4 separate regions of the Homo sapiens genome follow, and all the other regions are linked to region 1. Evidence: fine-mapped expression QTL. A gene starts in region 1. Each other region holds a variant in brackets. All regions are shown on one strand. Distances are between the middles of the regions.

Region 1 (5,140 bases):
CCACCTCAGCCTCCCAAAGTGCTGGGATTATAGGCGTGAGCGACTGCGCCAGGCAGACCTCATCTTTCAAATTAAAAAAAATAAAAAAAAAAAAAGACTCCCACAGTGGAACCAAGTGAGCATGAGAATCAGTTTCTTCATCTCCCTGTTTCATGACCTCACCCTGCACTCTTCAATCAATGATTTTCACACTTCATCCTAATCCTATTCCAAACTCTTTTTTAAAAACCCTAGCCCCAAAGTACTCTGGGAGATGGATTTGAGGTTTCCTCCTGTCTCCTTGTTCAGCAGCCCTATGATTAAACCTCTTTCTCTGCTGCAACCTGGTGTCTTGGTGTATTGACCTCCAGTGTGCATCAGGCAACAGAACTATTACAGTTAATACTTTTAGCCTAACATTCAAAGGCCCTCCCCATCTATCCCAAACTACCTATCCAATTTCTGGTCCCACTGCCTCTCAGCGGGACCCTGGCTTTACTCACCAAACTCTGCTGTTCCCCTAGTCTTGCCACTCAGTAAACACTACCATCATCCAATTTGTTGCTCAAGACAAAAACACAGAAGTCATCCTTAATTCTCTTTCCCTCAGACTCTCTAAATCCAATCCACCAGGAAATCTATTTCCAATCATGTCTCAAATCTCTCATCTCTTCATCTCTACTACCTCACTCTAGTTCAAGTAAGCCACCACCATCACTCACCTGGACCAATGCATTAACCTCCTGACCACTGCATAACCACAATTCATTTGTCACACATCAGCATAAAGTGGATTATGGCTTCCCATTACACATGGTATAAATTCCAACTCAGCATCCTGGTTTACCAAGTCTGGCCACTCTCTGGCCTACCTTTCCAACCCTATCTCACACCATTCTCTTTTTCACCCACAATGCACCAACCACACATTAGCTTCTTTTTTATTTCTCTAACTTGCCAAGCTCAGTCCTGGAAGGCATTTTTTTCACCCTGACATATGCATGGCTAGCTCTTGTTATTTAGATTTCTGGTGATTCGCCTTCGTGGAAAAGGCTTCACTAGCCACTCAAGTAGTTACTATCAGATGGCCGGCCCTATTTTAATTTCCTGTAAAGCGCTTATCACTATTGGATGTTTTTATTTTTCGCTCTATATTCCCCACTAGAAAAAAAATCTCTACGTGGGCATGGGATGTTGCTGCTTCGTTTCCATTGAATTACCAAGGCTTAGAACAATACCAGGGCTTGAAACGCAAAAAAATTCTAAAACTTGTGGAATGACTTAATGAACTCTTGATTCTCACCACTCTTCAGCCCCTCCCCAACTTTCAGGACAGTCTTCCTGAAGGCATTTTGTTTATTAAGCCACTTGATTTCCGTCTATCATTCCCAGTAAAATATAAGCTTCAAGAGCTCAGAGACAGGGTTTGCGTGCATGAGGGCTGTATTCCATGACCAGCATGGTGCCTGATATAAAGTAGGCGGCCGGCAGTCTTTCTGTTAGCTGAATCCATGAATGGGACAATGGGGCTAAATTTACATGGGGGTCGGCCATGCCTGGGGTCTGCGGAACGCACGCAAGATAGGACGAATGGACGCCTCCACTAAAGCAAATACGCGGGCACCAAGTAGACACAGCTCGGCCCGGTGGGGATACTGAAGCCGCCAGACCAAGCTTGGGCTAGATGACGAAACGCTGCACCTGGAGGAGGATCCAGGTCCGCACGCGGTAACTATACTCACGTGGAAGATGCACTCGCGGCCACAGAGCACCTCGAATCGTCGCGCGCGTTTGTTACGTCATCCGCGTGCGCCGCGGGCAGAGACTGGACCTGCCAGCGCCGGGGCGACTACGCCCCGCCCACTTTTCCCCAGCCACCCGGCCGAATTCTAGGTTCTTGGTGGGGAGAGGTTTATCCCCAGGTGGTTTCTCCCACAAATCTGTCTTGAACTGACGTTTGTGAAAATACATTCAGTTCCCCGTCCCCGCGGGGACAGTTAAGTAATGACATCAGTTAGTTAAGGCCATAAAGCAAGCATGTGAAAGTTGTGCTTTGGTGGCATTACGAGGAAGCCCTTCTCTGCTTGGCAAGATCAGGGAGACTGAAAGATGCTTAGAAGTCATCCACCAGGCGGGCTGTGTTTGAGTTCCTGAGCTCTGCTACCCCATCCATCTGAAGGCCTGCGGGATGCCGGACAGGATGTCACTTAGGAGGGAGACGGAGGCTGGGCGCGGTGGCTCCCGCCTGTAATCCGAGCACTTTGGGAGCCCGAGGCGGGCAGATCGCTTGAGCCCAGGAGTTCGAGACCAGTCTGGGCAACATGGCGAAACCATGTCGCTACAGAAAAATACAAAAATTAGCCGGGTGTGGCGGTGCAAGCCTGCGATCCCAGCTACTTGGTGGGCTGAGGTGGGAGGATCGCTTGAGCCCGGGAGGTCGAGGCTGCAGTGAACCGAGATGGCGCCGCTGCACTCCAGCCTGGGCGATAGAGCGAGACCTCGTCTCAAAAAAATCAGAGAGGGCCAGGGGCTGTGTTTCACGCCTGTAATCCCAGCACTTTGGGAGGCTGAGGCGGGTGGATCACCTGAGGTCAGGAGTTTGAGACCAGCCTGGCCACATGGTGAAACCCCGTCTCTACTAAAAATACAAAAAAAAAAAAAAAAAAAAAAATTAGCCGGGCGTGGTGGTGGCAGGTGCCTGTAATCCTAGCTACTCAGGAGGCTGAGGCCGGAAAATCCCTTGAACCTGGGAGGCGGGGGTTGCAGTGAGCCGAGATCGCGCCACTGCACTCCAGCCTGGGCGACAGAACCAGGCTTCGTCTTAAAAAAAAAAAAATCAGAGAAAAGAGACAGGGGTGTCGGGAGTTGGGATGGTGCACCGAGGCGCCTCGCGGAGTCTCTAGGAAGCGAGGGGGTGAGCAGCGAGAAGGAGCTGGAGGTGGCGAGGAAACCCGCTCACCGGTGACGTCACCGAGCGCCCCCCCACCCCCATCCCCACCCCCAAGCGAGCACCTGCCCCTCCCGGGGGCGGAGCTCCGGCGCATCATGGCGGCTGGCCGGGCCCAGGTCCCTTCCTCCGTGAGTGCTGCTATTACGTCTCTTGTTCCTTTTTTCTTGTTTGTCACAGATACTCTTTCTCTTCCTATTTCCTCTGCCTTGTCTCTCTGGGCTCGCTGGCCGCGTCCGGCCCATGGGTGAGGGGGTTGTGAGTCGGTCCGCTCCTACCTCTTACTGGTTCTGCGAATGTTTATTCCCTCATTCACGCGGCGCCCGCTGTGAGCCTTAAACTGGTCTCCGTTCACTCTCTAGGGTTTAATCCTGGTGGGAAACCAGGAGCAGGTTAATGGGGGAACTATGGGGCTGTGGGTTCCTGGAGAAGACCCTTGACGGAGCTGTAGGGGAAAAGGGCAACCATAATAAGTAAAAGCGTCTGAGACCCGAAGTGCGTGTAGAAGGCAAAAAGCGCCGAAAGGGGCTGGGTGTGGTGGCTCACGCTTGTAATCCAGCACTGTGGGAGGCGGAGGCGGGCGGATTACTTGAGGTCAGGAGTTCGAGACCAGCCTGACCAACATGGTGAAACCTCATCTCTACTAAAAATACAAAAATTAGCCGGGCGTGGTGGCGCGCACCTGTAATTCCAGCTACTCAGAAGGTTGAGGCAGGAGAATCGCTTGAACCGGGTAGACGGAGGCTGCAGTGAGCTGAGATTGTGCCACAGCACTCCAGCCTGGGCAACAGAGCGAGACTCTGTCAAAAAAAAAAAAAAAAAAAAAAAAGCGCCGGAAGGGGTTTCAGGACGGAAGCAAACACATATTCAAAGGCAGGAGGATAGAGCAGGTGTCTGAAAAACTCAAAAGTTCAGTTGGGTGGTGGTGGAGGGGTCAGAGCTGACAGTTTTGTACCTCTTGCTAAGCAGCGACTTTAACATGAGGGTAATTGGGTGTGGTGGCACACGCCGGTAATCCCAGCTGCTCAGGAAGCTGAGCAGGGAACCACGGAAGTGGAGGTTGCAGTGAGCCGAGATCGCGCCACTGCACTCTAGCCTGGACGACAGAGCCAGACTCCATCTCAAATAAATAAATAAATAAATAAATAAATAAATAAATAAATAAATAAGATGTTAAGAAAATACAATCTAAAGGATTGGTTTGTGTGCGTGTGTGTGTGTGTGTGTTTTGAGACGGAGTCTAGCTTTGTCACCAGGCTGGAGTGCAGTGACGCGATCTCGGCTCACTGCAACCTCTGCCTCCCAGGTTCAAGCGATTCTTCTGCCTCAGCCTCCCGAGTAGCTGGAATTACAGGCATACAGGCACGCGCCGCCATGCCCAGCTCATTTTTGTATTTTTTTTCTTTTTTTTAAGTACAGACGGTGTTTCACCATGTTAGCCAGGATGGTCTCGATCTCCTGACGTCGTGATCTGCCCGCCTTGGCCTCCGAAACTGCTGGGATTACAGGCGTGAGCCACTGCACCCAGCCAGGACTGGGACCTATGTAGGGAAAGGAAGGAGCTAAGGAGGACATCTAGGTTTCAGGATAGAACAACTGTTTGGTTAAGGGTACTATTTGCTAAGTTAGTGAACATAACACTAGAAGAGTTCTAGAAAAGGACAGGGTTTTGTGGAAAGTTCAGTGTTGGGCATGTGTGCTGCCTGTGGATTGGCCATGGAGAGTCTGGCAGATGGATAGGACTAAAGCTCAGGAATGAGATCTCAGCTAAAGTAGACATACAGGAACAATCATCATCTGGCCATGGCTGTTAAACCCATGCAGTGGTTGAGATAATTGTGGGAAAGCATATTGTGTTCTTAAACTTCAGCCTGTATTAATCTGGATCTTCCTCTTCCTCCCTCCTTTTTTTTTTTTTTTTTTTTTTTGAAACAAGGTCTTACTCTGTCACCCAGGCTAGAGTGCAGTGGCACCATCATGGCTCACTGCAGCCTCAACCTCCCTGGGCTCAAGCGATCCTCCCACCTCAGCCTCCCAAGTAGCTGGGACTACTGGCGTGTGCTACCACGCCAGGCTAACCCAGCTAATTTTGAATTGTTTTAGAGTTTCACCATGTTGCCCAGGCGGGTCTCAACCTTCCCAGGCTAAGGTGATCCTCCCACCTCAGCCTCCCAAGTAGCTGGGACTACTGGCATGTGCTACCACGCCAGGCTA
Region 2 (5,165 bases), 44 kb after region 1:
TCCAGATTGCTTTCTCTGTAGCTATGGCTAGTGAGCCCCATTTAGCTCTTAGTCCTGGCAAGCCTTGAATCCAGAAATCTGCCTCCAGTTTCCCCTTACCACTCCCAGCCCTGGTGTCCCCGGCCTGGGCCACGTCTGACCCCAGTTTGCTCCTATCATCTTTTCCAGCTCTTTTATGCCTTTGGCCTGAGGCCTCCTCTGTCTCTTCCCCCAGCCATCCCAACATCCTGCGTCTCTACAACTATTTTTATGACCGGAGGAGGATCTACTTGATTCTAGAGTATGCCCCCCGCGGGGAGCTCTACAAGGAGCTGCAGAAGAGCTGCACATTTGACGAGCAGCGAACAGCCACGGTCCGGGCGGGTGGGCACCTGGGGCGCCAGTAGGGGGCTCGAGGCTGAGGGTGTGCTGCTTGTAGCTGGAGGTCCATCCTTGTCTGATTGCCTGTCGTTGCCCCTCCCAGATCATGGAGGAGTTGGCAGATGCTCTAATGTACTGCCATGGGAAGAAGGTGATTCACAGAGACATAAAGCCAGAAAATCTGCTCTTAGGGCTCAAGGGAGAGCTGAAGATTGCTGACTTCGGCTGGTCTGTGCATGCGCCCTCCCTGAGGTATGGTGGCCTGGGAGGCCAGACCTGGGTGTGAGGCTGGGCCATTAAAACCTCTCCAGGGGCCGTGCACCGTGGCTCACACCTGTAATCCCAGCACTTTGGGAGGCCGAGGAGGGCGGATCACCTGAGGTCAGGAGTTCGAGACTAGATTTGCCAACATGATGAAACCTTGTCTCTACTAAATATACAAAAATTAGCCGGCCATGGTGGCGGACGCCAGTAATCCCAGCTACTGGGGAGGCTGAGGCAGGAGAATTGTTTGAACCTGGGAGGCGGAGGTTGCAGTGAGCCGAGATTACGCCATTGCACTCCAGCCTGTGTGACAGATCGAGACTCTGTCTCAAAAAAAAAAAAAAAAAATGGTTAGAGTGTGGTGCTAATAACCCCAAGGTCGCAGGTTTGATCCCTGTAGGGGCCAATGGTAAAACTTTGGCCAGGCGCGGTGGCTCACGCCTACCAGTCCCAGCACTTTGGGAGGCCAAGGCGGGTGGATCACTTGAGGCCAGGAGTTCAAGACCAGCGGACCAGCCTGGCCAACATGATGAAACCCCATCTTTACTAAAAACACAAAATTTATTAAGCAGACATGGTGGTGCACACTTGTAATCCCAGCTGTTCGGGAGGCTGAGACATGAGAATCACTTGAACCCGGGAGGCAGAGGTTGCAGTGAGCCAAGATCGCCCCACTGCACTCCAGCCTGGACTCTCTCAAAAAAAGCCCGGAGCAGTGGCCTTTTTTCCTCCCACATCACTTTTTAATGGTTTCATAGTATCACATAGTAGCTGATTTATTTAACCAGAACATGCCTGATGGGCATTAGAGATGTCCCCAGTGAACTCCAAATGAACACTGCCCTCATATCAGGGTATCTTATTAAGATATATCCTTCAGTGTGGAGTTGCTGGGCTGTGTGCAGGCTCACCTCTGGGGCTTTGGGATATATCATCACCCCAACCCCACCCCCACTCCAGTGGCCTTGCCTGGCTGGACCTCTCCCCTGGTACATCCCGTGGTCTTTTGGCTCCCAGCCGTCAGGCAGCAGGGAAAGGAGAGTTCCTATGTCACTAGGACCCCTGCCCACGCCCCTTATCCCTCCCAGGAGGAAGACAATGTGTGGCACCCTGGACTACCTGCCCCCAGAGATGATTGAGGGGCGCATGCACAATGAGAAGGTGGATCTGTGGTGCATTGGAGTGCTTTGCTATGAGCTGCTGGTGGGGAACCCACCCTTTGAGAGTGCATCACACAACGAGACCTATCGCCGCATCGTCAAGGTGGGAGGGCGGCCTGGGCTTCGTGCCAGCTGCTGAAGCCAGGAGCTGGGGGGCTGGGGGTGGGCAGAGTGTATTTGCATGGCCCTAAGTAACTCCAAACAGAATGGGTAGTCAAGGAAGATGTAGCCAGGGTGAAACTAATGCAGCCCTTCCATCTCTTCACACCTGCAGGTGGACCTAAAGTTCCCCGCTTCCGTGCCCA[T/C]GGGAGCCCAGGACCTCATCTCCAAACTGCTCAGGCATAACCCCTCGGAACGGCTGCCCCTGGCCCAGGTCTCAGCCCACCCTTGGGTCCGGGCCAACTCTCGGAGGGTGCTGCCTCCCTCTGCCCTTCAATCTGTCGCCTGATGGTCCCTGTCATTCACTCGGGTGCGTGTGTTTGTATGTCTGTGTATGTATAGGGGAAAGAAGGGATCCCTAACTGTTCCCTTATCTGTTTTCTACCTCCTCCTTTGTTTAATAAAGGCTGAAGCTTTTTGTACTCATGAGTGTAGATGTTTCTAGGTGGAGGCTTTGCTGTGGAGGAAGCTGTTCCCTAGAAGGAGAGCTGGCTCACCCTGAGGAGCCGGGATGAGCATTACTTTGCTATCCCTGGTAACACCCTACCCTCTCAGCTCTGACACCCACCTGGTCAGCTCCCAGCCACCCCAACCCCTACCCCCACTTCCACCTCTACCCTCACTGTCTATTCTTTCCGTTGCTCAGACTCCCACAGCCCAGGGGCACTGGGGGCCCTGGCTCCCCATTGCTACATTGGAACACCAGCCATCTCTGGCCACCTTCTTTCACCTCTCTCTTGGTTGTCCAACTTCTAGTTTTTCCTTTTCTGTTTCATTCTCTGCCCCTTTGCCAACGTAGGAGCAACTAAACAGTTCTGTACCCTAGAAGCTGTCTTTGATTATTTCACTGCTCTGGTCAGGATCTAGTACAGGAGCCAATAGAAGCAGCAGTGATTCTGTCTTGTTCCTGACATGAGGTTACACTGTTATGCATGATGCTTGCTGTAGGTTTTTGATAGATACCCTTTATCAGGTTAAACAGGGCCTATTCTACTCATAGTTTACTCAGAGTCTTTAAAAAAAAAAACAAAAACAAAAAAACAGTTAAGTCTGGGCGCAGTGACTCATGCCTGTAATCCCTGCACTTTCAGAGGCCGAGGCAGGCAGATCACAAAGTCAGGAGATCGAGACCATCCTGGCCAACATGGTGAAATCCCATCTCTACTAAAAATACAAAAATTAGCTGAGCGTGGTGGTGCACACCTGTAGTCCCAGCTACTCAGGAAGCTGAGGCAGGAGAATCGGTTGAACCCGGGAGGTGGAGGCTGCAGCAAGACCAGATCGCACCAATGCACTCCAGCCTGGCTACACAGCAGGACGGAGTCTCACCCTGTCATGCAGGCTGGAGTGCAGTGGCCCGATCTTGGCTCACCGCAACCTCCAACCTCCTTTCAGGTTCAAGCTATTCTCCTGCCTCAGCCAGCCAAGTAGCTGGGATTACAGGCGCACGCCACCAAGCCTGGCTAATTTTTTTGTAGTTTTAGTAGAGATGGGGTTTCACCATGTTGGCCAGGCTGCTCTCGGACTCCTCACCTCAGGTGATCCACCCTCCTCGGCCTCCCAAAGTGCTGGGATTACAGGCGTACCACGCCTGGACAAGTTTTTTTTTTTTTTTTTGAAACAGAGTCTTGCTCTGTCGCCCAGGCCAGAGTGCAGTGGTGTGATCTCAGCTCACTGCAGCCTCCGCCTCCCGGGCTCAAGTGATTCTCCTGCTTCAGCCTCCCGTGTAGTTGGTATTACAGACATGTGCCACCACTCCTGGCTAATTTTTGTATTTTTAGTGGAGACCGGGTCGGGGTTTCACTGTGTTGGCCAGGCTGGTCTTGAACTCCCGACCTCAAGCAATCTGCCCACCTCGGCCTCCCAAAGTGCTGGGATTACAGGCGTGAGCCACTGCGCCTGGCAGGATTGATTGATTTTTTTTTTTTTTTCTTAATTCATTGCTTTACACCAAGCCTCTAGAACAGTACCCGGAATGTAGAGGACACTCAGTAACTACTGTCAAATGAATAAATCTAACCAAAATTATGGTGGCAGTGGGGTGGAAGAGTGAATTCCTTGAATTTTATAGCAGGAAAAAAACAGGTCATGCCTAAAACTGAAAACTTAAGAAGCAGCAACGGAAGCATGTGATTTAAAAACGTATGGTAGGGGCTGGGCGTGGTGGCTCAGGCCTGTAATCCCAACACTTTGGGAAGCCAAGGCAGGTGGATCACCTGAGGTCAGGAGTTCGAGACCAGCCTGACCAACATGGTGAAACTCTGTCTCTACTAAAAAAATACAAAATTAGCCGGGTGTGGTGGTGCACGCCTGTAATCGCAGCTACTTGGGAGTCTGAGGCAGGAGAATTGCTTAAATCCGGAAGGCAGAGGTTGCAATGAGCTGAGATCACGCCATTGCACTCCAGCCTGGGCAACAAGAGCAAGACTCCTTTTGAAAAAAAAAAAAAGAAATCTGTACTTGTACACCCTGAGAACGTAAAAATTAAAAAAATAAAAATAAAATATACGTGACTGTTGTTTAACAACTTAAAAAAAATGTATGGTAGGCCAGGCTCAGTAGGCCATGCCTGTAATCCCAGCACTTTAGGAGGCCAAGGCGGGCGGATCACGAGGTCAAGAGATCAAGACCATCCTGGCCAACATGGTCAAACCCTGCTTCTACTAAAAATACAAAAATTAGCTGGGCATGGTGGTGTGTGCCTGTAGTCCCAGCTACTAGGGAGGCTGAGGCAGGAGAATCTCTTGAACCCGGGAGACAGAGGTTGCAGTGAGCCGAGGTCAAGCCACTGCACTCCAGCCTGGCGACAAAGTGATACTCCGCCTCAAGAAAAAAAAAAGTATGGTAAATACCCAAAGCAAATCAAAATAAAACAGTGAAAAGACTTGGAACTGGCTATCTCTAGGGAGAAAGAAATGGGCGGGGTGCTTATTTATTTTTTATTTTTTGAGACGGAGTTTTGCTTTGTCACTCATGCTGGAGTGCAGTGGCACAATCTCAGCTCACTGCAACCTCCACCTCCCAGGATCAAGCGATTCTCCTGCCTCAGCCTCCCGAGTAGCTGGGATTACAGGCATGTGCCACCACGCCCAGATAATTTTTGTATTTTTAGTAGAGATGGGTTTCACCATGTTGGCCAGGCTGGTCTCAAACTCCTGACCTCCAGTGATCCACCCGTCTGGGTCTCCCAAAGTGCTGGGATTACAGGCATGAGCCACTTCA
Region 3 (5,171 bases), 30 kb after region 1:
AGACAAATATGAACGTTATTCAGAAGTTGGGTGCAGACTTTCAACATTATGTGATATATCCCTGTGGCAAAACTGCGCATGTATCCCTAAGGTCTATAAAAGTAAAAATAAATTTAAAAATAAAAAAATTCCCTGTTGTATGGAAATTGTTAAATAATTTTTTAAATTATTATTTTTTGTTTGTATTTTTTTTTCCCTTGAGACGGAGTTTCTCTCTTGTTGCCCAGGCTGGAATGCAATGGCACTATCGCGGCTCACCGCAACCTCCGCCCACGGGTTCAAAGGGATTCTCCTGCCTCAGCGTCCCGAGTAGCTGGGATTACAGGCATGCACCACCACGCCCGGATAATTTTGTATTTTAGTGGCGTGAGCCACTGTGCCCGGCCTTTTTAAATGTTTTTAATAATCTCTGCTGTTCTAGGTATGTTTACTTAACACTGAACACAAGGATATTAAATACAAATATTACCTTTCTCCAGACTTCCCAGCAGTCACTAGAAGCCCAGGACCACGTGCATTTTGGCTGCTTCCAGTATATTGAAAAACAAAACCGGTGGGATGGGATGGCTCACGCCTGTAATCCCAGCACTTAGGGAGGCCCAGGCGGGCAGATCACGAAGTCAAGAGATCAAGACCATCCTGGCCAACTTGGTGAAACCCCGTCTCTACTAAAAACTACAAAAATCAGCTGGGCGTGGTGGCGCATGCCTGTAGTCCCAGCTACTTGGGAGGCTGAGGCAGGAGAATCGCTTGAACCCCGGAGGCAGAGGTTGCAGTGAGCGGAGATTGGCACCACTACACTCCAGCCTGGCGACAGAGGGACACTCTCTCTCAAAAAAAAAAAAAAAAAAAGAAAGAAAGAAAAAGAAAAAGAAAGAAAGAAATCCAGGCCACCCACCCTATATGCCTTGTCTTTTCCAATGGGAAATTTATTCCCTTCACCTCTCTCTCCTCCACTAACAATACCTTTCTAAGTGTGACTGGCTTTGGTTGATGGGGAAGAATTTGGGCCATCTCACCACCATCCACACAGCAGACATTGCCCAGGTTAAAATCTGTGCTCCGCTTTCCTTCCCCTTTCTTGCCCCTGCCCACCTTCTGCCATAGCTGTCTCTGTGTCACTGTATCACTATGTACAAGACAAAGGCAGACAGTTGACCAGTCCTTGCAGAAATGGTGCTTGAAGAACTGCTGATGACCTGAGCAAGGTAACAGCATAGAAACTCTGGCGACCTAAGGCGGAGCTGGCTGTGAGGCTGGCTACCAAGCAGTCCCACCACCATTCTCACTGCCAGGGCAACCAGAAAACCTTGCCTGCATTAATTATTTCATAAGGAGATGCAAAATGATCATTTCCTAATTCTATCATTTTGTGTACATTTATTAGCTGAAACACACACACAGATATATTCGTAACAAAATAAAGAAGAAATACAGCCAGGTGTGGTGGCTCACGCCCGTAATCCCAGCACTTTGGGATGCCGAGGTGGGCAGATCACCTGAGGTCAGGAGTTTGAGACCAGCCTGGCCAACATGGTGAAACCCCGTCTCTACTCAAAATACAAAAAAAATTAACCAGGCATGGTGGCACATGCCTGTAATCCTAGCTACTTAGGAGGCTAAGGCAGGAGAATCACTTGAGCTTGGGAGGCGGAGGTTGCAGTGAGCTGAGATCATGCCATTACACTCCAACCTGGGCGACAGATTGACGCTCCGTCTCAAAAAAAAAAAAAAAAAGGAAATACACTTACAGTCCTTGTTTCTCTAACTGGCCACGTAGTGGTAGCTGATAACTAGCTGCTGCTGCTGCTGCTGCTTCTTTTTTTTTTTTTTTTTTCTTGAGATGGAGTCTCGCTCTGTCACTCAGGTTGGAGTGCAGTAGAGTGCAGGTGATCCACCCATCTCGGCCTCCCAAAGTGCTGGGATTACAGGCGTGACCCACTGTGCACAGCCTTTTTTTTATATTTTTAGTAGAGACGGGGTTTCATCATGTTGGCCAGGCTGGTCTCGAACTCCTGACCTCAGGTGATCCTCCCGCCTCAGCCCCCTAAAATGCTGGGAATAAAGGTATGAGCCACCGCACCTGGCCTAACTAGCTTCTTCTATTACCCATTTTGTCTTCCCATTGTCTTCAACAAGCCCCTCAACTGGTCCTGGTTATTTCCCTCGTAGGGAGACCCAAACCTTGTTCCTGAAGGGTCTAAGCCACTAGTAGTCCTATCTGAACTGAGTGCTTCCGCTTGTAGTTTTCCACTGACCTTAGAATCTGTATTAGTCTGCTCAGGCTACCATAACAAAATGCCGTAGACTGCGTGGCTTAAACAACAGATATTTATTTTCTCACTGTTCTGGAGGCTCAAAGTCCAAGATCAAGATGTTATCAGGGTTGGTGTCTGCTGAGGCCTCTCTTGCCGGCTTCTACATGCCGCCTTCTTGCAGTGTCCTCACATGGCCTTTCCTCTGTGCCGACAGGGAAAGAGAGAACTCTGGAGTCTCTCCCTCTTCTCCTAAGGATGCCAGCCCTGTAGGATTAGGATTCCACTCAAATGACCTCATTTAACCTTAACTACCTCCCTAAAGCTGTGTCTAGAAATACATTTACATTGGGTGTTAAAGCTTTATCATATGGATTTTGGAGAAACACAATTTCATCCATAACAACCACAGAAGAAAATGGTAGAGAAACAATATACCTAGACCTAATTCTTGAAAATATTTTTTTTTTGAGACGGAGTCTCTGTCTGTCGCCTAGGCTGGAGTGCAGTGGCGTGATCTCGGCTCACTGCAAGCTC[C/G]GCCTCCTGGGTTCACGCCATTCTCCTGCCTCAGCCTCCCTAGTAGCTGGGACTACAGGCACCCGCTATCACGCCCGGCTAATTTTTTTTTTGTATTTTTAGTAGAGACGGGGTTTCACCGTCTTAGCCAGGATGGTCTCGATCTCCTGACCTCGTGATCCACCCACCTCGGCCTCCCAAAGTGCTGGGATTTCAGGCATGAGCCACAGCGCCCGGCCTACTTCTTGAAATTTTACTGACCGGGCCTGGTGGCTCATGCCTGTAATCCTAGCACTTTGGGAGGCCGAGACGGGTGGATCACGAGGTCAGGAGATCGAGACCATTCTGGCTAACACGGTGAAACCTCGTCTCTACTAAAAATACAAAAAAAAAAAAAAAAAATAGCCAGGCGTGGTGGCGGGTGCCTGTAGTCCCAGCTACTAGGGAGGCTGAGGCAGAAGAATGGCGTGAACCCGGGAGGCGGAGCTTGCAGTGAGCTAAGATCGCGCCACCGCACTCCACCCTGGGGGACAGAGCGACACTCCGTCTCAAAAAAAAAAAAAAGAAATTTTACACTGGAACTCCACCTGTATGCCTTTTAGTTCATTTAAAAAAACATCATAAACAAATATAGCAAAATGTGTTAAGATTTGACTAATTTAATAGCAGTCACACAAGTGCCTTTAAAGTGTATTCCTGGATGGGTGTGGCGGCTCACGCCTGTAATCCCAGCACTTTGGAAGGCCAAGGTGGGTGGATCACCTGAGGTCAGGAGTTCGAGACCAGCCTGGTGAAAATGAGGAAACCCCTGTCTGTACTAAAAATACAAAAATTAGCTAGGCATGGTGGCCCACGCCTGTAATCCTGGGAGGCAGAGGTTGCAGTGAACCAAGATCACCCCATTGCACTCCAGCCTGGGCGACAAGAGCAACACTGTGTCTCAAAAAAAAAAAAAAAAAAAATTAGCCAGAATGGTGGCGGGCGCCTGTAATCCCAGCTACTTGGGAAGCTGAGGCAAGAGAATCGCTTGAACCGGGGAGGCAGAGGTTGCAGTGAACTGAGATTGCACTGCTGCACTCCAGCCTGGGCAACAAGAGTGAAACTCCATTTCAAAATAATAATAATAAGGCCGGGCGTGGTGGCTCATGCCTGTAATCCCAGCTCTCATGGAGGCAGAGGTGGGAGGATAGCTTGAGCCCAGGAGTTCGAGACCTGCTTGGGCAATATAGCGAGACCCTGTTCTCCACAAAAAGGAAGAAAAAAAAGACAAAATAATAATAATAATAAATAAATAAAAAAGAGCCGGGAGCGGTGGCTTCAGGCCTGTAATCCCAGCACTTTGGGAGGCTGCAGCAGGCGGATCACGAGGTCAGGAGTTCGAGAACAGCCTGACCAACATGGTGAAACCCCATCTCTACTAAAAATACAAAAATTAGCTGGGCATGGTGGCACACGCCTGTAGTCCCACCTACTTGGGAAGCTGAGGCAGGAGAATCACTTGAACGCAGGAGGCAGAGGTTGTGGTGAGCTGAGATCATCATGCCACTGCATTCCAGTCTGGGAAACAGAGCAAGACTCCATCTCAAAAAAAAAAAAGATATTTTATAATTTTTTGTGGTAAATTATACTTAACATAAATTTTACCATTTTAACCATTTTAAAGTGTACAATTAAGAGTTTCTGGTATATTCTCACAGTGGTGCATCAATCATCACTATTTAATTCCAGAACATTTTAATCACCCCCCCCCCAAAAAGAAACCATTGGCACTCACTCTGTATTCCCCCTTCTCCCTTCCCCTAGTCTCTGGAAACCACTAATCTGTTTCTGTCCCAGTGGATTTGCTTATGCTGGATATTATGCTGGATATCGCATGTAAATGCAATCATATAATATGTGAACTTTCTATCTTTTTTTTTTTTTTTTGACGGAGTCTTGCTCTGTTGCCCAGGCTGGAGTGCAATGGCACGATCTTGGCTCACTGCAACCTGTGCCTCTTGGGTTCAACGGCTCTCCTGCCTCAGCCTCCTGAGTAGCTGGGACTACAGGTGCCCACCACCACACCTGGCTAATGTTTGTATTTTTTGTAGAGACGGGATTTCGCCATGTTGCCCAGGCTGGTCTGGAACTTCTGGGCTCAAGGGATCTGCCCACCTTAGCCTTCCAAAGTGCTGGGACTACAGCCATGAGCTGCTGTGCTCAGCTTAGCCTCTTTTGTTTATACTGTTTTCATGGTTTCCATGAAATAAAATATCAGTACTTCATTCCTCTTAGGACTAAGTAAGTTTCTATTTTATGGATATATGACATTTTGTTTATTCATTCACCAGTTGATGGACATTTGGGCTGCTTCCAACTTTTGGCTGTTGTGAATAACGCTGCTTCTGAATATTTATGATA
Region 4 (5,171 bases), 99 kb after region 1:
GCCCCAGGTTTGCCCCGGTACCAGGACCCTATTAGGCTTTCAGCGCTCCCCGTGTCTCTGTTCTCCAGTCCCTGGCCCTGCGCCGCCTGTGATGTCAGCCCACTTCGGACTAGAACATCCCGTTCCCAGCGCTGGTTCCTGCTGTTGGCCACAACCTTCCCTTTTCCCCTGGCGCTCAGAAAATGCTCAGTAGTAGGGGTGTGGTTGGACGGGGAGTAGGGGAAGAAAGATCTGTTGGCTGTTGTGTGTCTTCTGCCCAAGGCTTGGGGTTGGTGGGGGGGTCTGGCCAGAAAAGTAGGGGACTGAAGAGAGAGGATCCTCGGGTCCTTGACGATGGCAGGTTGCCGGCTTCGGTCCTTGTGGTGGGGAAGCAGCGCAGGGGCTAAAGAAGGAAAGGTTGTGTTGTCTTGACCAGAATGACTGGGATCCAGGCGAGAGTCAGGTTGAGGGGCTTTTGCGCCGAGGGCAGTGGCCGTTGTGCTTCGTCCTGGGGAAGCCAGGACCAACCCTGGGATCCTAATAGGCCGTCCCACTTCTTACGGCCACCGAGCCATCCTGGGACTGGGGATATGTAAGGGATGCGTGACCCCCCCGGCCGCGCCCACCAGTGTGAGAGTGGGCCGTTCCCCCACTTCCGCCGGGAAATGGGGGAGGGGTCGCTCCTCCCGCCCTCCTGTGGTCCCTCCAGCAACCGCTGAGCTCAGCAGCTGACGTCGGTTTCCCTGGCGACCGTGGCGGCGGCGGAAGCGCGTGGTGGGGCCGCGCACGTCGGCGCGCATGTGCAGCGGGGGTGGCACCGCCCCCGGATAAAATTAGCCTGGAGGCCTAAATATAGGAGGCGACCAGCTCACCTCCTGCTCCGAGGCCTTGGAGGCCCAGGCAGAGTGGACACCTAATGGGAACTTGGGAATGGGAAGTGTCCAGGTTTTTGTCTACAGCCGTGGTTCTCATTGACTGCTCAGGCCATGGTGGCAGGGGATGTGAAGGAAGGCCCCGGAGAACCTTCTCCCGCTGGCAGTCCCCCTAAGGGTACAGGAGACATCCTGACTCCCCATTGGAAGCCCCAGGCCTGGGTTCCACTCCCATCAGTCCTGCAGGAGGCCAGGCAGGGGGAAGGTCTGAGTGAAGCCAGCAGGTGCTCTGGAGTTAAACCAGCTTTCTGCAAGCCCTGCTTCCTGGTCTCCCTCTCCAGGTACTGGCTGTGATCGAACTTCTCAACCCTCAGAGACTTAGATCTTCCACCTCACTCCCTCAGCCAAGCCTCCAGGCCCCCTCGTGCATCCGTGGTGGCCTCTCTGCCTTCTCTGTTCTGTTCTCCCCATGGCCCAGACATGAGTGGCCCCCTAGAAGGGGCTGATGGGGGAGGGGACCCCAGGCCTGGGGAATCATTTTGTCCTGGGGGCGTCCCATCCCCTGGGCCCCCACAGCACCGGCCTTGCCCAGGCCCCAGCCTGGCCGATGACACCGATGCCAACAGCAATGGTTCAAGTGGCAATGAGTCCAACGGGCATGAGTCTAGAGGCGCATCTCAGCGGAGCTCACACAGCTCCTCCTCAGGCAACGGCAAGGACTCAGCCCTGCTGGAGACCACTGAGAGCAGCAAGAGGTGTGTATGGATGTGTATGTTGGGTCTAGGAATGGTCTTGTGAGCAGGCAGAGCTGGGTGACAGGCCTCGCACTGCTGGCCCTACCTGTAACTGGGCCTGTTGCTGTCTCCTAGCACAAACTCTCAGAGCCCATCCCCACCCAGCAGTTCCATTGCCTACAGCCTCCTGAGTGCCAGCTCAGAGCAGGACAACCCGTCCACCAGTGGCTGCAGGTACGTCGGGTGAGGCTGGAGGAGAGGTCTGGGGGCCCAGGCCACACTCTGGGACTAATGTCTTTATCTCTTTCTTCCCTGTGGGCCCCGCAGCAGTGAACAGTCAGCCCGGGCAAGGACTCAGAAGGAACTCATGACAGCACTTCGAGAGCTCAAGCTTCGACTGCCGCCAGAGCGCCGGGGCAAGGGCCGCTCTGGGACCCTGGCCACGCTGCAGTACGCACTGGCCTGTGTCAAGCAGGTGCAGGGTAAGTGGTGTGTCCCAAGAGGGAATGGCCTGGGCCTGGGCTCCCGTGTTGAGGCAGCCTCCTTACTGAATGCCTCACTGCCTCCACTCTGCAGCCAACCAGGAATACTACCAGCAGTGGAGCCTGGAGGAGGGCGAGCCTTGCTCCATGGACATGTCCACCTATACCCTGGAGGAGCTGGAGCACATCACGTCTGAGTACACACTTCAGAACCAGGTCAGCGGCGGCCTGGCCTCTGCATCCCGACGCACCCCTACTCCTTCTCCCACAGCTCTTGAATCTGCTCTTGCTCTCCCCCTCCTGCCAGGATACCTTCTCAGTGGCTGTCTCCTTCCTGACGGGCCGAATCGTCTACATTTCGGAGCAGGCAGCCGTCCTGCTGCGTTGCAAGCGGGACGTGTTCCGGGGTACCCGCTTCTCTGAGCTCCTGGCTCCCCAGGATGTGGGAGTCTTCTATGGTTCCACTGCTCCATCTCGCCTGCCCACCTGGGGCACAGGGGCCTCAGCAGGTGAGGTGCCCAAGCGCTGTGGGGAGGCATGAGCAGTCCCAGGAAATTCCTGCTGTGAGGGGCCGGGGAACCCAGACTTTCCCTTAGTGGATTCTTCGCAGCCTAGGGAAGGGGCAGGAAGCTGTGCTCACTCCTCTCCTGTCTGTCCCAGGTTCAGGCCTCAGGGACTTTACCCAGGAGAAGTCCGTCTTCTGCCGTATCAGGTAGGTGAGGGGAACTGGAGAAGACCTCTGCCTCCTTTTTTTTTTGTTTTTGTTTTTGTTTTTGCTTTTTGAAAGGGAGTCTCACTCTGTCACCCAGGCTGGACTGCGGTGGCACGATCTCGGCTCACTGCAACCTCCGCCTCCCAGGTTCAAGCGATTCT[C/T]CTGCCTCAGCCTCCCAAGTAGCTGGGATTACAGGCATGCGCCACCACGCCCAGCTAATTTTTGTATTTTCAGTAGAGACGGGGTTTCACCATGTTGGCCAGGCTGGTCTCGAACTCCTGACCTCAGGTGATCCGCCTGCCTTGGCCTCCCAAAGTGCTGGGATTAAAGGCGTGAGCCACCGTGCCCGGCCTACCTCTGCCTCCTCCTGCCCCCTCCCCAGCGTCTTTGCTGTTGTCTGCTGTGACCTTATTGTTGGAGGAGTGGGTGGCTCTCTGTTGAAAGTCCCTAATGCTCCTCTCTCCTTTGCTAGAGGAGGTCCTGACCGGGATCCAGGGCCTCGGTACCAGCCATTCCGCCTAACCCCGTATGTGACCAAGATCCGGGTCTCAGATGGGGCCCCTGCACAGCCGTGCTGCCTGCTGATTGCAGAGCGCATCCATTCGGGTTACGAAGGTGGGCAGGTCAGGGCCCTGGCCTGGTGGGGGCTGGGAGGAAGGACATTTCCTCATGGCCAGACATGAATTTGGGAGGCATGAACCACACCCTTTGAATTTTGGAACAAGAAAAGCTATTGTAAAGATGAGGATTTGAGCTCCTCTTAGAGGTAGAGTTGAATAAGGTGCCCAAGCTAGAGGAGGGCAGAGAAGAATGCCTTGCTTGCTCTCAGTCATGTTACTGATACAGGGCATAGGATTGGCCCAGACCATCTTTGGGCCCATAGTGCCCGGGGCAGAGCTGTGTGGCAGATCATCAGCCAGCCTGGGCCCAGGCAGAGTGGAGGGCTGAGGAGTTGGGCATTCTGGACGAAACCCAGTGACCACACTCTCTGTGCCTCAGCTCCCCGGATACCCCCTGACAAGAGGATTTTCACTACGCGGCACACACCCAGCTGCCTCTTCCAGGATGTGGATGAAAGGTGAGGATAGGACCTAGAGGAGACGAGGGCAGCCAGGGCTGAGGCCACGGCCACTCTGATGCCTCCTTCCCGTTCAGGGCTGCCCCCCTGCTGGGCTACCTGCCCCAGGACCTCCTGGGGGCCCCAGTGCTCCTGTTCCTGCATCCTGAGGACCGACCCCTCATGCTGGCTATCCACAAGAAGAGTGAGTTCCTCTCGCCCTGCTCGCCCTTCCCACTGTCCTGGGCTTTTGAGTGGCTGCCCTTGTGGTTGTGTCTCTTGGTGCCTTGGTCTCCTGGATCTCTAGTGGCATGGCCTCCCTCTTACTCAGCTCTCCCTCCCTTTGACCGCTCCTCCTTTCCCACTTCCATCAGTTCTGCAGTTGGCGGGCCAGCCCTTTGACCACTCCCCTATCCGCTTCTGTGCCCGCAACGGGGAGTATGTCACCATGGACACCAGCTGGGCTGGCTTTGTGCACCCCTGGAGCCGCAAGGTAGCCTTCGTGTTGGGCCGCCACAAAGTACGCACGTAAGTGGGCCATGCCCCCGAGCTGGCGTTGGGGATAGGGCAGTGCGGTGGGGGACAGGACCGGGCCAGGGCTGGATTCACTCTTCACTCTACAGGGCCCCCCTGAATGAGGACGTGTTCACTCCCCCGGCCCCCAGCCCAGCTCCCTCCCTGGACACTGATATCCAGGAGCTGTCAGAGCAGATCCACCGGCTGCTGCTGCAGGTGAGAGTAGCGGAGAGGGAGCCTGGGAGGTGAGAAAAGGTGTGGGAAGCCGGGTCAAGCCATCTAACCTGCCCTCTCCCTGCTGCAGCCCGTCCACAGCCCCAGCCCCACGGGACTCTGTGGAGTCGGCGCCGTGACATCCCCAGGCCCTCTCCACAGCCCTGGGTCCTCCAGTGATAGCAACGGGGGTGATGCAGAGGGGCCTGGGCCTCCTGCGCCAGTGAGTGACCTGCTCCTACCTCACCCTCTAATCGCCCTTTCCCCTCTCCTTCTTGGAACCAGCACTGCCAGTCCCAGAGTCTTGCCCGATCCTCCTTTGCCCTCTCCTTCCTGCCTTTTCCTTCTTGTCCTGCTCCCATCAAGGCGTCTGTGCCTCCCCACTGGTACCTTCTTGTTTTATTGTGCCCTTGGCCCCTGACACTGGCGACACCCCCTGGTTCTGCTCACTGTGGTGCTGTGTCCCACAGGTGACTTTCCAGCAGATCTGTAAGGATGTGCATCTGGTGAAGCACCAGGGCCAGCAGCTTTTTATTGAGTCTCGGGCCCGGCCTCAGTCCCGGCCCCGCCTCCCTGGTGAGTTGATGATGATGTGTGGGTGAAGAG

The links. PIP is the estimated chance that this variant, and not a neighbour inherited with it, causes the effect. A credible set is the group of variants that fine-mapping cannot tell apart.
Region 2: its variant is the best candidate, but not a certain one, in a credible set for the expression of CTC1 in spleen (GTEx, PIP 0.52).
Region 3: its variant is the best candidate, but not a certain one, in a credible set for the expression of CTC1 in whole blood (TOPMed, PIP 0.70).
Region 4: its variant is the best candidate, but not a certain one, in a credible set for the expression of CTC1 in whole blood (INTERVAL, PIP 0.90).

What each region holds. Positions count from the first base shown.
Region 1 is chr17:8,245,921-8,251,060 of GRCh38, reverse strand. It overlaps CTC1 (CST telomere replication complex component 1), which reads left to right and starts at 3,005. Exons shown (of 23, transcript NM_025099.6): 1 at 3,005-3,057. The coding sequence starts at 3,025. PFAS (phosphoribosylformylglycinamidine synthase) reads right to left here and starts at 1,772. Exons shown (of 28, transcript NM_012393.3): 1 at 1,722-1,772. RefSeq lists enhancers at 1,588-2,344, 2,469-2,588, 3,069-3,208 and a silencer at 2,929-2,978.
Region 2 is chr17:8,201,938-8,207,102 of GRCh38, reverse strand. It overlaps AURKB (aurora kinase B), which reads left to right. Exons shown (of 9, transcript NM_004217.4): 6 at 215-353; 7 at 464-612; 8 at 1,713-1,887; 9 at 2,059-2,369. The coding sequence ends at 2,232. Among named protein-coding and RNA genes, the nearest start is that of AURKB, 6.1 kb to the left of the region's middle. RefSeq lists an enhancer at 2,904-3,404. The variant T/C (reference allele first, on the strand shown) is at 2,090.
Region 3 is chr17:8,215,599-8,220,769 of GRCh38, reverse strand. It overlaps LINC00324 (long intergenic non-protein coding RNA 324), which reads left to right. Exons shown (of 3, transcript NR_026951.1): 3 at 1-140. Among named protein-coding and RNA genes, the nearest start is that of TRW-CCA1-1, 2.8 kb to the left of the region's middle. RefSeq lists an enhancer at 1-72. The variant C/G (reference allele first, on the strand shown) is at 2,793.
Region 4 is chr17:8,146,867-8,152,037 of GRCh38, reverse strand. It overlaps PER1 (period circadian regulator 1), which reads left to right. Exons shown (of 23, transcript NM_002616.3): 2 at 1,193-1,606; 3 at 1,721-1,819; 4 at 1,913-2,067; 5 at 2,162-2,283; 6 at 2,375-2,576; 7 at 2,728-2,779; 8 at 3,252-3,394; 9 at 3,779-3,857; 10 at 3,935-4,041; 11 at 4,211-4,364; 12 at 4,460-4,568; 13 at 4,657-4,788; 14 at 5,036-5,141. The coding sequence starts at 1,332. Among named protein-coding and RNA genes, the nearest start is that of PER1, 3.0 kb to the left of the region's middle. RefSeq lists a silencer at 641-740 and enhancers at 901-1,010, 1,480-2,127. The variant C/T (reference allele first, on the strand shown) is at 2,941.